Regions from separate parts of the Homo sapiens genome. Here region 1 is linked to region 2. The links come from fine-mapping of genetic effects on gene expression. A gene starts in region 2. The other region holds a variant in brackets. All regions are shown on one strand. Distances are between the middles of the regions.

Region 1 (5,372 bases), 210 kb before region 2:
AGGTGTGAGTAAATATAAATTTCATCAATTATTACTCCAAAGAGTTGAAAATGAGTAAATACAAGCTATGACTTGAGCACTAAAAATATGTCCTCTGTCTGACTTGGGGAGAGCTTATTTAGATCTCATATAGATTTGGAGAAAGAAAGACATGGAAAAGACCTAATCTGGTGGCTTGCAAGCCCTTTTTTAAGAAGAGCAATCGTTTTTACTAACATTTTAACCAGAAGTCCTCAATGTATGAAACAGGTAAACACAGGGCTGCTCTGTTTGAAAGGGAGGCAGAGTCACCAAGTCCACCTGCCCCTCTTCCTCCCCTCCCCACCCTGACTTGGTCAACTCTCATACCATGAACAGTTTACCTCAGTCATTTCTCCCCTATCACTGATGCACCAAGTCATCCACGCAAATGGGTGTTTTTCTGCTTTGGGAGACTTCCAGGGAAGGGTTTTTCATACCTTCCTTAGGCACTCATTACATGTAAAATCCTTGCAGCGGTAGGTCTTTGTTATAAAAAATTACACAGAAAGTTGCCAGTGAACCTCAGTGTCATTCAAAGTACTAGGACCAATAGAATTTTTCCTGATACACTTCTGCTTTTCCAACTTGAGTCTTCACACCCATACCTACAGTGCATTATCAAGTCTAATGTCAGTTTCTTTAAGGTGGAGCAAAATTTTAACAACATAAAGCAATCTGAAAGCAAAATCCTCTAGAGTTTTATAATCTCCTCTAACCTTTCAAGTCCTACATATAACTCAGCAACATGCCTTTTCTTTCTTTTCTTTTTTCTTTTCATTTTGGAGAGAGAATTGCTCTGTTGCTCAGCTGGAGTGCAGTGGCGTGAACATGGCTCAATGCAGCAGCCTCGACGTCCTAGGCTCAAGTGATCCTCCAACCTCAGCCTCCTGAGTAGCCAGGACCACAGGTATGTGTCACCATGCCTGGCTAATTTTGCTTTTTCTTTTCTGGAGAGACTGGGTCTTGCCATGTTGCCCAGGCTAGCAATTTCCCTTTTGAAACTTCCAATATAGTCTTTATGGAAACAACTTTCTTTTTATGCTCATATTTCATCAATTTATGTAATAATTATATTATCCAAGTTCAACTGGCATAAACAGGTTTGGGAGCAAATGCAATTCTAGGAAAGCATTCAACTTGATTGGTGGAGCAGAAGGATGCAGGCACATTTGAGAGCAGCCTGTTGGCAACCTGTGCTCCGTGTGCAGAAGGCACACAGTCAGAGGGAATAGTGAGCAAGTTGGTGCAAGGGTTGTGCTCTATCTGATGCCCAGAACCATTTTGGAAAGACAAAAGTGAAATTCACAAGGCTGAAGACATCATCACAGCTCCCCTTCTGACTTTTGCTGCTTTTCAGTATATTTCTCTTTGCTTCACCTCTGAATTTTTTTGCTAAGTGGGGATGAGGAAGTGAGGCTAATAATTGTTATTGCTGAATCATTGGGCTGAAATCACATGGCCAGCGTTATTTAACTTTAAGACATTATTTCGCAGGTAGAATTGTTCTCAGTTAGAGAGAGTCTTTTTCTTTTTTTGAAACGGAGTCTCACTCTGTTGCCCAGGCTGGAGTGCAGTGGCATGATTTCAGCTCACTGCAACCTCCGCCTCCCGGTTTCAAGCAATTCTCCTGCCTCAGCCTCCCGAGTAGCTGGGATTGTAGTCACCTGCCACCATGCCTGGATAATTTTTGTATTTTTAGTAGAGATTGGGTTTCGTCATGTTGGCCAGGCTGGTCTCGAACTCCTGACCTCAAGTGATCTGCCTGCCTCGGCCTCCCAAAGTGCTAGGATTACAGGTGTGAACCACCACGCTGGGCCAGAGAGAGTCTTAGTTCAACTTTATAAAAGGGACATGGGGTAGCTAAGAGCCTTACCTGAGCAGACTACTACGTCAAAACCAGACACCAAACCCAAGGGTCCCAACTTCTTTAGGGGGCTCCTATAGGCTCCACTGTCTCCCTGGCACAGTAAATTTTTTTCCAAGGTCTTGTGGACTCTCTGGGGATCAAAGCTGCTTTTACAATGAATAGCTCTGTGCAAATTCCCAGAATTAGTTTCTCAGATAGCAGGAATGCTCCTAAATCAGGTTGTGCATGAGTAAGCAATGATTTCCTCCCTCCTGCAAGAGACTCATGGCTAGTTTCTCAGACAGAGGACGTGACTGGCCACTTTTGCCCCCTGAGGTTCTGAGGCCAGGGGTAGAGCTTGGTGGAGGCTGGTAGGTTCCCTGCTGAGGTAACTGCAGTGCAGCAGCCCAGATTCCATCTCCCTTTCTAAACACTGCACACATGCTAATGCTGGAGGAGCACAGCTTTGCCAGGGATTTCCATATGAGAACCCCAGAAAAGAAACAACTTGAAATATCATGGCAAACATGAGATGCACCCATAAAAGATGAAAGCAATTGCTATAAACCACGTGAAAAAGCTGGTGTTATTACATATACCTCCTCCTTCACACTTAATTCATAAGAGTGAGAGAGGAGGACCCTTTTAATAATGGGACAAGGAAAATTAATAAATTAACATACTGCTCATATACTGCAAAGGTAATAATTCCAAAACACATTATGAGCACTGAGAAGAGTAGTCTTTATGAAGTTTTCTCACTCAGAGAGCCGCCTTTCCAGGGAAAGGCAACTACAATCTTCCCCAGGGTCAGCTCAACACTAGCCTAGAAGGTGTCTGCAAAGTTGTTCGGCATGAATCCCATATATTGGGGACCCATTCCGGTGGGGTTGACGTAAGGAGCTCTGGGTTCTGGAAGAAGGATCCCAAGATAAGCACTCAGTGACAGCAAGCATGGGAATCTGAGTTGGCAACCCAGGGCCTGGAAACTACAAGGATGTTTATCTAGAATTTAGGAAGAGAGAAGCTTAAATGGGGGAAAAACAGTACCAATTATGGGCACCAAATACATATATAATATAGGAAATGGGAAGAAGTGGCAAAAACTTCCAGAACATGAATGTGTAGCATAATGTAAACAAGAGATTTCATTAGGGAACTTTTTCCAGACAAGAGTGAGGCATCCATTTCCAGGGATCTGATTAACCACTCAAGCACTGCTTTTCAACCACGTATCAGAGGGAATAAATAGGAGCAGGGTCTAGGATGTGTACCCTGGAACACCCTCTGCTGTCTTCGCCACTGTGTCTAGG[G/A]GCAAAATTCCAGAAACCCATGGCACCCAGGAATAAATCCCAAGTATGTGTTCTCCTTCAGGGCCTTTGAGCCACAATTCCACCCGCTGGCAGAAATACTACTTCTGTTTTAAAGCTGTTAAAAACCTATTTTTAAAATCGTACAGTTGGCAGATCACCAAAATCAAAACTTGATAGTCTAGTATAGTCTTATAGAACTATTTAAAATAATCCATGGGAAAATGTTCCAAGCCGGAAAAATAACAGTTTCACACATGCACACATGCACACAGGCAGGACCGTGTGTGCATGCACTAGGGCAACTGCCCGCACAGCCACGAGAATGGGGGCCCAGGAGGACGGTGAAGATGACAGAGTGGGATGGGCCATATGTTCCGATTTCTTTATACATTACCTATTGATCCACTGCCCCATCAATTCTCTTCAAGATTTATCTCAGGCCCAGGGTTCTTCTCCTTCCTCCTTCATACCTGAAAGTCTCCCTTCTACCTGAATAGTGTCTCCAAATTTCTTCATTTTTTTTTTTTTTTGAGACAGGGTCACACAGGCTGGAGTGCATTGGCATGACTGGAGCTCACTGCAGCCTCGACCTCCTGGGCTCAAGCGACCCTCCCATCTCAGCCTCCCGAGTAGCTGGAACTACAGGCGTGTGCCACCAGGCTCGGCTAATTTTTTGTATTTTTTTGTAGAGATGGAGGTTTCCCCATGTTTCCCAGGCTGGTCTTAAACTCCTAGGCTCAAGCGATCCACCTGCCTCAGCCTCCCAAAGTGCTGGGATTACAGGCACGAGACACTGCACCTGGTCATTCTCTCCAAATTTTGATGCAGTCTACATTTGAACTTCCATGAGTTTCCCACACTCACTGCGCTCCTAACGTGCTGCTCCTTGACCTGGGCATAAATCTTCCCTTACATTTCTGACTTGCTTGCTTCCTATTTCCAGCTACTGTTATTCCCCAATAACTGTTAAATATCCAATTCTATTACAAGTTAATCATAGTGTGGAATGGGAATAGGTTGTCTTTTGTTATGTTTTTAGTGATTAACAGAATTTCTTGGCACATAGTAGGCAATGAATAAATACTTGCTGGTGGATTTGCTTCCATTTTATGTACCTGTTATGTTTCAGGTGACATGATTTAACCTAATCTGAAGGGCTCTGTGTGTGACATGACACAGCATAAATATGGTATGTCCAAAGCTGTACAGCTATATTAGCTCTTACAGTGGTATCCTATCAGCTATTTTTTGTCATCATCAAAAGATCATTACTAAGTTCCACATATGCTGCACTTGGATAAAATCCCCTGGCCCCTAGAAACTTATAATTGGACAAAACTATCACCATATGATGAGTAAATATGGGGAAAATATATATAGATATGTCTAAAAGCAAGACTAGGCATGGTGGCTCACACCCATAGTCCCAGCAGTTTGGGAGGCTGAGGTGGGTGGATTGCTTGAGCCCAGGAGTTAGAAAACAGCCTGGACAACACGGCAAAACCCGGCCTCTACAAAAAAAAAATTAGCTGAGCATGGTGGCATGCACCTGCAGTCCCAGCTGCTTGGAGGCTGAGGTGGGAGGATTGCTTGAGGCTGGGAGGCAGAGGTGGCAATGAGCGGAGATGGCGCCACTGAACTGTAACATGAGTGACAAAGCCAGACCCTCTCAAAATAAATAAATAAATAAATACAATAAAATTAACTTCCCTGGAGGCTGGGGAACCTCATTAGCAGCTCTTCTTTATAGGAAATGACCATTCCAAATGGGAACTTGATTTTCAAGCTTGTAGAAAGTACCCAGCTCTTTAGATTTACATTTAGTCTAGGGAGGAGTGGCTGTATAGCCAGCCAGAGCTGGGTTTGAATTTCTGCTCCACTACTTACTGACTGACTTAGGACAGGCACTTTCCCTCCCTGAACATATGCACACATCAGAAAAATGGTCATGTCACCATCAGTCTTTCAGGCTAACTGGCAGAGTAAATAAGATAACAAAGAAAACACCTGTAAAGCACCCAGCTCAGTACCCAGGAAATCAGAGGTGGGTACACAACTTTCCTCTTCTCCCCTCTTTTGAATAACTCATCCATTATTCGAATGGCACCTGCAACAATACACTAAGTAGGAAAACTGGTTCGTGAGGAAATTCATACTTGCTATATATCCTTTGTAAGTCCATGGGTTACATC
Region 2 (5,372 bases):
ACTTTAAAAGAAGAGGGAAGTGACACTGATTGGAAATAGGAAGGCAAAAATAGAGACAAATTGTAAAAGATGGATAGGAGATTTTTCTATTCTAGGCCACTCCTTTCTACTGGGCCCAAACTGAGTTGATACCAGAGGTTCACAGGGACTCAGGAGGGGGCTAGATTAGGCAAGAAAGGAAAAACAGCACTCCTTTAAAAAAAAGATGGAGTTTCACTCTTGGCCCCCAGGCTGGAGTGCAATGGCATGATCTCGGCTTACTGCAACCTCTGCCTCCCGGGTTCAAGCAATTCTCCTGTCTCAGCCTCACGAGTAGCTGGGATTACAGGCACCTGCCACCACACCCGGCTAATTTTCATATTTCTAGTTGAGACAGGGTTTCACCACGTTGTCCAGGCTGGTCTCGAACTCCTGACCTCAGGTGATCCGCCCCTCTTACGGGCATGAGCCACCGCACCTGGCCAAAACAGCATTCTTGTTTTCAGTTTCCCCAGGCCAAGGTTTATCAAAGAAGCCAGATCCCAGAAAAAGCCCAAATATTCAAAGCTTGCCTACTTACCCATGGGCAAATCAACATTTTTATGAACTGCTTTTGAGGGAAAAAGAAGTAGAGGGGGTCTGGGGGAGCAAATTAACTCCCAAAGAATGAATAAATGGCACTTAAATGAGATAGGAGGCCTTTGAATGCTACTTAGTTTTTCTCCCCAATTCTATTAGTTTGGCAAGCATCTATAAAGTGCCTACTGTGTGCTGAGTGTTGTGGGTGGTCAGATAGGGTGTTTGGCTGGAAGGTACTCACAGGAAGATAGGCATGTGCACAAACACCCAAATATCTAAAATACAAAGCATGGCACACTGACAATCAACAAAAACAAAAAATGCAAAGCAGAATGTGAGACCTGCCCCAAGGGAAATCAGATAAACTGCTGAAGAAGTTCAGATCAGGGGCTGTTCTCTTTCACCCGGAAATGGTGTTCTCTTTCACCTGGTGTTCTCTTTCACCTGGAAAGTTCAGGAAATAGACCCTAGGGGCTGGAGCCCAAATCTGAAAAACCTTCTTTATTCTTCCAACCGTAGCGATTTTTTCCTGGCTCCACTTTACAGAAGTGAAAACCAGGACAGAGACATGAGGAATTATTTGCTCTCTGATCATCCAGGTGGTTAGCAACACAGCCAGATAGAGAACTACAAACTGATGATTGAAAACTTCCCCTAAAAACTGATGGTGAAAGCACATACTACTAGGAAGCTCATCTTAGAAGACAAAATCCATAGAGCTGTTCCCTCTGTCTCCCTTCTTAGGTCAATCCCAAAGACACACCAACAAAAAGTCAAAGCAGGATTTAAAAAAATGTCATAAGCAAGCTGGAATCATATATATCTCTGGCCTAAAGGAAGCCAAGGTCTCTGCAGTGTCAGATCGTCAGATCCTCCTCCTGGGGAGGCCATTCTTTTTGCGAAGTCTCCAGTCCCATTACAAGTGAGTTGCCGGGGACTTCATGTAGGGGGAACAAGAGCTAGCCCACAGATGAAAACCCAGGCAAGCCCTCTGCTTTTGCACAGTGAACGAACGTGCCCACAGGCTTCTCAGCATTGAATTTGAACGAGCCAATGGTATCCCAATCATTGAAACAGGAAGCCAGATAAACAGCATGTTATCAAGGGGGGATCCAGCTCTTCCCTTAAGCCGGCGCCAGCTGCGCCCTGTGACTATCCTAACAAAGTCCCATTGACTCACCAGCTGATTTTCCTGTGTTCGGCTCCAGGGGACAAGGAACCCTCTCTGCCGGGTGGACGTCACCCCTACACACCGCCCCCGCCACCCGCCACTCGCGTCCTCTCCAGTTCCTGCCTCCCCTCTGCCCGCTGCAAACTTAGCTGCTTCTTTATCCTATGACCAGTTTTTATCGGCTCTGGGGATTAGCAGGGACCAGAGCCCAAGCCTCGGGAGCGCTCAGGTGAGCTCCCCGTGATCACCCAATTTCTGCGTTCTCCTCTCTCCCCTCTCCTCCGGGACCACTTTCTCCGCTCCCAGACGCACTGGGCGGGCGCCAGAGAGGACGGCCTCCGGGAGATTGGCGGGAGGGCGCTTCCCGGCGCATCCCGGGGGTGCGGGGAACGTTTTCTGGAACGGCCCGCGAGGTCACCTGCCCCAGCTGTTCCTCTGGCTCCTGCTGGGATGGGAGGAGTTAACTCTTGCTTCAACGAAAGGCAGAGGTGCGGGTAGGGTGTGTGCTTGCCGTGTGGGTGCGAGTATAAGAACGCAGCACCTGGTGTCTCATGATAAGATCTCAACGCACTTTAAATTGTGGGTATTTCACAACAAGGAAACTGAGGCTCAGAGGGACTGAAGTTAGGCAGCCCCCCCGGAGAGTCAACTCTAGAATCAAACGCGCAGTCAGTCCCATAGGGGTCGAAAGGGCACACACCTTCCCGGGAAGCCGCGAGCATCTTGGTTGTTATTTATTCCAGCGCCTCTCCCGAGCCCAGCCCACAGCCTCCCTCGGGCACCAACCTCCCCTACCCCGAGACTTGGTCTCGGCCTCGCAGGACCTGCCAGCCAAGCCTCGCAAAACGGGAAGCGCCAGACCCTCAGCGCCGCGACCGCGCGACCGCCCCGCGCCGGCCACTCACCGGAGCGCCTGCCCGCCCGGGCTCCGGGTCCGCGCCGCAGCCGCGCAGAGTCGCGCATCCCCAAGGGCAGCGCGGGTGCGGGGTCCGCTTCTCGCGAGCACAAAGTTTCCCGGGGCTCCCCAGGCCGCCTCGGCCCCTCGCACCAGGCTTGGCGTCCGCCGCGCACTCCAGCCTCGGGCCCCGCACTAGGGCAGCCGCCGGCCCCGGCCCCACAATGAGGAGGGAGGCGGCATCCTGAACAAAGTGCCGTCCCCTCGGGAACGGCGGCCGGGGCGGAGCCTCGTGACCCGCTGCCCCAGGCACACGCCGGCTGCCTCCACGGCGGGCCCAGGAGGGGAGTGCCTGGCGGCCGGGGGGCGGGCAGGAGGAGAGAATCCGTCCGATCGCCCTGGCTTTCCTCCCCCTGCACTGTGCCAGTTTAACCCGCAGAGGGGCGGAGGCATGGGTCCCTTCCAGACTTTGTCATTGGAAAGCTATTCCCGTAACCCTTTGCTGCCTTCGCCTTCCCGTCCCGCCTCCCAGGCTGGCCGCAGAAAGGCGGCTGCTCGGTGGCGGACCCGCGAGCTGGCAGGGCAGGAAGCCTTTGCACAATTGAGCCTTTCCTTTGCCCGGGGACCCGCCACCGCCACTTCCAGGCCGGGTTTCCTCCCTCCCCCACATGTCGTCCGGGTACCGCTCGCTGGTTCAGCCGCAGTTCTTTAGGAGAAGGGGACAGATGGATGGGCCAGCCTCTCCACCCGACTTCTGACCCCGGGCACCCACCTCCTTTCTTTCTCCACCCCACTGAACTGTCATGCTGTCTGAGCTGTCTTAGAGGAGGGGGAGGCCCCGCAAGTGCCCCGCAAATAGTAGGTGCTCAGTAAAATAAGTGACTTCTCCCCACCTTCCAGACAGCCGATGCCCCTCCTCCTTCTTCCAGGGACTTGGGAGTGGGAGGAGGGGGAAGAAGAGGAGAGAGGAAATGACAGGACCTGAGGAGAGTGAATGGGAGGAAGGCCCTCAGCCAGAACCTACTGCAGAAGCAGTGCAAGCCCCCTGCCTCCTGGCTTGGGGACTTCCAGGGTCTGCAGGAAGAAGGCAGAAGGAAGCCAGATGACCTGAGCTTTGAAGCAGGCTTTGGAAAGGGAGTAGCTGTGGCCAAGGACCCAGCAGATTCCCCTGCTCCTGCCAACAAATAAGAGGACTGATCTATTCCCAGGGCCATGGGGTTGCAAGTTGGAGGACTGATGGATAGAAAGCAAAACTGCCTACTCCCTGGGAGGTCTCACAGCTCTTTGCCAGCAAAATCAGTGTGAGCAGAGTCAGGATGAGAGCCCTTGAGTCCTCCCTGAACGCCCCACACAGTCAGTAAGGCCACAGTGGCTTTGAATTTGGAGAGATGAGACACCAGACAATGGACAAGCAGTGACATTCAAGAAGTTCCCAACTGATCAGGGAAAAAGATTTGTTGTATGATTTTTGTCCATGAAGGGAGTGAACTGCCTTTTGGCGCGGGATAAGGGGGTGGACTGCAGAGTGACACCCTTACCCTCTGTATAAAGACTAGAAGTGTGGGCTCTTAAGGCAGACTGCATGAGTTCAAATCCTGGATCAATGATTTTTTAGCCATGGGAACTTACTGAACTCTTTAACCTCTAGCTACCTCAGTTTCTTTATCTGTAAAATGGGATAATAATGGTTCCTATCTCCTAAGAGTGTTGGGAGGATTAAATGCGATACTATAGGTGACACACTTAGAATAGTGCTTGGCACATAGTAAATGCTCAGTGAACATTAGCTGTTACTTTGATCTTGGAGTAACTAACTCTTGGAGATCTAACTCTTGGAGATCTAACTCTTGGAGATGTAACTCTGCGCCCAGTTTGGCATTCAATGATGTGCTAGCTAGAATCCTTTTGTGCTCTTCCCAGTCCTGCAAAGGGGAGCCTAGTCCTTTAAGAAGAAGCACTGTCCTTTCTTGAGAGCTCAAAAGGTGGGACCCCAGGGACCAAGGACCACACAGTAGGTATGCAAATGACTATCAGAAGGTGAAATGACTCCTTGACCCATTGTGAGGCTGGATGCATAGCCCCCATCCACATTGGTAATGCTGGGATGATGTCATTCCTTGGGTGCTACCCAGAATGGAAAAGAAAGCCAAAGCTATAATTTCGTAAGGGTTAGATCTCTTCTATCAGTACACAGGATCAATATTTCTCTCCCACTTATGAGTGGCTGCTCATACAAGTTCTCCCTCACCCTGCTCCTAATGTCCCAATCAATATGGGTGACGGGATCATTTGTACCCCAAGCCTCAGCATCACACAATATACCCAGGTAACAAGCCTGCATATGTACCCCCTGAATCTAAAATAAAAATTCAGAAAAATGTCCCACTCACAGATTTCCAACAGTGAACCTGTATGTGTAGGCAAACATAATAGCATATGGACAGGTTGAGGGAGGAAGGAGTAAAGGGGCCAGTCTGGTTGGGGTGACAGGCAGAGGATATGAAAGCTACTGAAAGAGAAAGTGGATAGGACAGAGCGGCAGGGAGGAGAAGCCAGAAGAGACTCTGGACAGAGCACTGTTTGGGTAAGAAACAGGGTCCCGCCCATCCCAGAAGTGGCCTCTGCCAAATGCCTACTTTGTGAGTAGTTTTTGTCTGAACACAGTGATGACTCAGTTGCTCTGAGTCTAGCAAATGGATTTTCCTTAAATATGAAAATCAATAAGAGGTAAAGGCAAGGACCTCGCTG

The links. PIP is the estimated chance that this variant, and not a neighbour inherited with it, causes the effect.
Region 1: its variant is the best candidate, but not a certain one, in a credible set for the expression of NAV1 in nasal epithelium (TOPMed, PIP 0.63).

What each region holds. Positions count from the first base shown.
Region 1 is chr1:201,745,332-201,750,703 of GRCh38, reverse strand. All of the region lies in intron 7 of NAV1 (neuron navigator 1), which reads right to left. The region is part of intron 2 of IPO9-AS1 (IPO9 antisense RNA 1); the gene reads left to right. It overlaps LOC124904483 (a long non-coding RNA gene), which reads left to right. Exons shown (of 2, transcript XR_007066790.1): 1 at 1-928. Among named protein-coding and RNA genes, the nearest start is that of MIR5191, 29 kb to the right of the region's middle. The variant G/A (reference allele first, on the strand shown) is at 3,181.
Region 2 is chr1:201,536,605-201,541,976 of GRCh38, reverse strand. It overlaps NAV1 (neuron navigator 1), which reads right to left and starts at 2,850. Exons shown (of 34, transcript NM_001389617.1): 1 at 2,635-2,850. It overlaps LOC124904484 (a long non-coding RNA gene), which reads left to right and starts at 1,832. Exons shown (of 2, transcript XR_007066793.1): 1 at 1,832-1,958.